Regions from separate parts of the Homo sapiens genome. Here region 2 is linked to region 1. Evidence: fine-mapped expression QTL. A gene starts in region 1. The other region holds a variant in brackets. All regions are shown on one strand. Distances are between the middles of the regions. Region 1 holds the start of IL2RA-AS1 (IL2RA antisense RNA 1). Region 2 overlaps IL2RA (interleukin 2 receptor subunit alpha).

The links.
Region 2: its variant is fine-mapped to the expression of IL2RA-AS1 in spleen (GTEx, PIP above 0.99).

Annotation. Positions count from the first base shown.
Region 1 is chr10:6,033,854-6,036,353 of GRCh38, forward strand. IL2RA-AS1 (IL2RA antisense RNA 1) reads left to right here and starts at 1,557. Exons shown (of 2, transcript XR_001747349.2): 1 at 1,557-2,209; 2 at 2,332-2,500. All of the region lies in intron 1 of IL2RA (interleukin 2 receptor subunit alpha), which reads right to left.
Region 2 is chr10:6,052,736-6,055,235 of GRCh38, forward strand. All of the region lies in intron 1 of IL2RA (interleukin 2 receptor subunit alpha), which reads right to left. Among named protein-coding and RNA genes, the nearest start is that of IL2RA, 8.4 kb to the right of the region's middle. RefSeq lists a cis regulatory region at 1-291. The variant C/A (reference allele first, on the strand shown) is at 1,230.

The sequences.
Region 1 (2,500 bases):
TCAAATTGTATGCCGCAGATCTATGCATTTCTTTATAAGTAATTTTAGCTCAACAAAATGAGCGAGAAGCATATTTAGCTACTCTTTTGTAATTATTCATTAGCACAAATAACCAGGATTGACCTCAGATGTTTTTGGAATCTGAGATGTCAATCACAAGCCAAGAACATTTCTAAACACATCAATTTGAAAAGAAGGAAACAAATTGTCTTGGAAGCTATTTTGTGCCCTTAGAAACTCTTGAATTCCATGAGAGTGCGTTTTTCTAGATGAGGTCATGGGCATTTTCAGAGTCATCATAAATTAGCCCGAGTGTCTGAAGAGGTCATGCGGGGACAAGGGGAAGTTCCAGAACTTCTTATTCTCACAGACTTTCCTTTCATAAAGAATCTTTCCTGGAATTTAGGATCTTGACACCTCCAGGTCTGTAGCTCAGTAACCACTAAAGAGCTTGGCTATAATCCTTTTCCCTGAAAGGCCTTGTCAGGAAGTGCCAAACATCACCTGAAGGCAGCAGGAGGTAGAAGAGTGTGTGGAAAGGTACGCTGGAGGGTTGCTCTTTTTCAATCTAATAGGAATAAATTTGGGATTTTTTTTTTAGCCCTTCTCAGTGTAGTGTTATAAAAGCAGCAACAGAACAACATCCAAAAAAAGAATAAAAAATAATTTGTCTAAAAGTCTTGCACAGTAATAACAGGAGGATTCCACTTATATGACTCCAAAATGTTGAAATCATCTTTCCCTATATTATCATTCTTTTATTTTTTAAGACAGCATACAACTGTCCTCATTCTCTAGTTTTACTCACTAACAATGCCAAAAATTACTTCTCAAAATTCAGCTAACAAGGGCTTTTCTCTGCCTTTACACTTCCTCCTGTCTTTCCAGACCCACTTCCTGCTTCTCCCAATGGGTCTTCTCAACATAAATCATTCTCTCCCGGAATATTTTCCAATTCCTAGCTCTACGCACTCCCCCAGCTCACACCAAGGGACCTGGGAGCTTGGGAGGCAGACAGAATTTTCCTTAGAAGAGGGGAAGGGGAATATTTTTCTCCCTGTAATTTTAAAGTATTGGCACGATTCTGGATGTAGACATCACCTTCTTTTCTGAGATTATTTGAAGTGTCTGGTGCCTATGGACTGTGGGAAAATTTGAGATGATCAATTCGGGAGTTGGAGGTGGGGGTGTAGGGTGGTAAACACTCAAGGCTTAGAAATTGGGGCTCCCCACCCTGCACTAGGGTCTCACACAAAGGGGTTGGCACAGGGCTGAGAAGCAGTGGGGCTCCTGTCCACCCTGCCCAGCACCTACTCCCACCAGGCAACTGAGTGGTATTTAGTCTGCAAGACTAGCCCAGAAACTTGAATGGGACCCTGAGAGAGCCAGGGGTTCCTTGGGCCCCCGCTAGGGGACTTTCTGTTTGCCCTGGGTCTCCCTGTGTGGGCAGGGATGGAGAGTGAGGGCCTGCCTTCATGGCAGTAGGCTCTGAGTGGGTGACTGGCGCCAGGCCAAGTTCTAGGTGGGCTTCCCAAAGCCACATTCAGGCAGGACGGAGCTGCTCTTGCACACGGTTTCGTGGGCTGGATTTTCTCTGTTGCACACATGCTTAGTATCTGTCTCTCCCTTTGTTCCTGAGTGGTGGGCCGCACATGAGGCTCTGAGCAGGCTATATCTCTATTCTGGCAATAAAAGTACTCTGGACACTGTTAAGGTGAGAAAAGAAAAGAAATCGGGGCTCCCAGGAGGAGAATCCTGAACCACGGGCTCTGCGGTGATGTGGCCTTCCTCTTTAGTTTTTGTGCCTTTTATGTGGGCAGAGGGAAAAAGAGACAGCCAGCAGTGATCATTAATCCTGAAAATGCCGAGGGCTTTGGCCTGGGACCCACACCAAGACAGAGTCAAACCGAGTTCTTCTAGTGTTGAGCGTGTTTCACATCTTCCGTTGGAGTTTGCTGTGGATGCTCATTAGACAGACATGGGCAGAATCCCACTTGTTCCTCGTCCTTTTCCACCTCACCTCCATCATTGTGGCTGAAATACACGATCATGGGTGTATCTTTCCTTGTGGATTTGTTGCCTCTAGGAGTTCTGTATGCAGCTGAAGGGTAACATCCCTTGGGAGCTTTTGCCTTGTCTGGCTGACGCCTTGGCAATCGCAAGTGACAGTGACGGAGAGCCACCTCCTCTGGAATGCATCATGGAACAGGTCTGGGAGAACAGAGGGTGCAGGTGAAGGGCCCTCGACAATGCTTCTCTTTGCATTGTGGGGTTTCCCCTTCAATGGATTGCTAAAGATTCAACTTCTCTGTCTCTTTGTGTGCCCGCTAGAAAGGGAAAAGCCAGGCATTTGTAGTCCTCCTGCCACAGATGACCAGAATGACCTCACCCAGGACAAACGGCGACAGATTTAGGAATTCAAGCCAGCTTTTCTGACTCCCAGGCACCTGCTCTCTCCTTTCGAGTGTTCGACTCCACTCTCAGTCACTCGTCACTCTTC
Region 2 (2,500 bases), 19 kb after region 1:
ATTTTGGTCCCAAACAGAAAAGAGTGGGTGATTCTGTGGGCAGAGGTGGCAATTCCTGAATGTGGTATGGTGACTCACGCCCGGAGGTGCTCAGAATTTCCTCTGTTTTGTGGCTGCTGGGGCAGGTGCGACACTGCCGCTTTCTCTAAAGATGCCCCCAAGCTGCTCTGGGGGTAGAAGGAAGGCTGCAGGGAACAGCAGGACCCGGAGAACCCAGACCCCAAGGACCAGGTGGTCCTTAAGCCATCCTGCAGGAGGCCGGCTGCTCTAGCAGGTTGAGGAGTGCCACGCGGCTCTGTGGGTACCGCCTCACTGCATGTACCTGGGGCTGAAGGAGCAGTGGGCATTACTCACAGCCTATTACTTCACCTTTGTAAAAAACAAAAATAACTTCCCTGCTCACATGGCACCTTTGTCTTTGACCTTTAGCAGCAGTTTAGACAGGAGGAAAAAAGGCAGGTTCTGGAATGAGAGCGCCTGCTTCCTATCCTAGCCCCTTCCTCGTTGGGCTACATCAGGCAACCCATTTAATCTCTGTAAGCCCATTTAACCACAGTTCACCAGGCAGAAAATGGGGATAATCATATGACCTACTTTATTTTGAGAATTAACCAAAGTAATACTATGTCTGAACATAATACCTGAAAGATAGCATTTAGGCAATGGATATTCACTGTGGTGGTTCTAGCTAGTGTTCAAATGTTTTCTGGAACAAAGCTTGAAGCAAATAAGAACGAAAGGAAACATAACTATCAGTATCGGAGTTGGTGCATGGGCCGGCTTTAACCAGTCATGTTTCCTAGTCTATAGCTTTGCTCATTTTCTTACCAAAGGAAATCAGGGCCTGTTGGAGACTGTCCTATTTTCCACGCTCTTTAGAATAAAGAAACCAATGGCTTTCACAAACTTCCTTATTTAAAATTAATTATCATTTTAAAAAATAGAGGTGGGGTCTCACTATGTTGCCCAGGCTGGTCTCAAACTCCTGGGCTCCAGGGATCCTCCCCTCTTGGCCCCCCAAAGTGCTGGGATTACAGGAATGAGCCACTGCACCTGGCTGCAGCTTCCTTTTTATTCTTTTGAAACATTGCTCTTTCTTCTTCTTTTGGGTAAAAGGACTCAATTGCTGCTAGTCCAATTGCACCAGCTTGTTCTTGCACTGCATACAGCGTGGGAGGAAAAAGCCTGGGAAACGGGGGGACATGGGCCAGCGAGCTCATCCGGCCACA[C/A]CTTCCACCATGGGGCAGGCCCCTCTACTGGCACAGGATGTCAATACTCCTGATCCGTATCTTGCCTTCCCTCCACCCGTTCCTCTTCCTCCCAGCACAGTGACCTTCCGGTCAACCCCACCCATGCCACCCACACTTTGTTGCCCTGGAGTTTCCTGCCACCTGAACCCCTCCTTAAGCAGGATGCCTGGATCCGGGTCGAGGGCTGCAGGCGGAGCTGCTGGTCAAAAACCCCCCGGGGAACTGGTTGGGTGTGGGAGTGGGAGAATGGGCTGTCAGGACAAAAGCACTGGGACTCCAGCCCTGTGGTGTGCACGTGGCTCGGGCTGGGTCAGGAAAAAAATGTGGAGGTAGGGAAACAAGACCCAGGAACTCTTTGGCTGCCATCCAGGGTCATGTGGTGCTGGTGATAAGTGATCAGTGACCCATTGAACCGAGGACGTCTACCGGGGACCAATGACACCTGTAGACACTGCAGGGTTGAAGCTGGGGGAGAAGCACTCACATGCTGTCTGTCTGAGCAAAAGTATTCGTTTTTGTCCGAGAATCTGAGACTCATTTGCTTGGCACACACACACAAAACTTCATGTATGTTGAAATATGGCTCATTATGTAGTTGTCCTGGCAAACCCCTCATCTCTCTAATTGGTCAGCTCACTACTCATGGAACACGGTCCATGTACACGACTCCAGCAGCATCACTAGAAAACACCATTCTCCAGCCCCTCTCCTGATATTCAGAACCACCATTCAGAGCCAGGAGGTCCCAGGGCCACCTTCTCTGAGAATTTTTTTTCTAGTTCTCCAGGTAGCATGTTACTCTCCCTATTCTGATCATTTATGGCATTATTTGCAATGTTTGATCAATATTTGATCTTTCCCAGATTGGTTTTCCCTTTTTCTAATTTTTTTTTAAGAGGCAGAGTCTCACTATGTTGCCCAGGCTGGTTTTGAACTCCTGGGCTCATGGGATCCTCCTGCCTTGGCCTCCCAAAGTGCAGGTATTACAGGCATGAGCTATCACACTCAGCCTATTTTCTCATTTCAGTCGCAAGTTCTGTGTGGGTAAAAGCAATGCGTATTTATTCTCTGACTTGATAGCCTTGTTACTCAAAATGGGGTTCATGCACCCACAACATAGGCCTCCTGTGGAACCTGTTTGCACCAGAATCTTAGGCGGTAACCCCTGACCTCCCGAGTCAGAATTTGCTCCGTGACAAGATCCCTGGATGATTTCTAAATGCATTAAAGGTTGAGAAGTACTGCTTGAG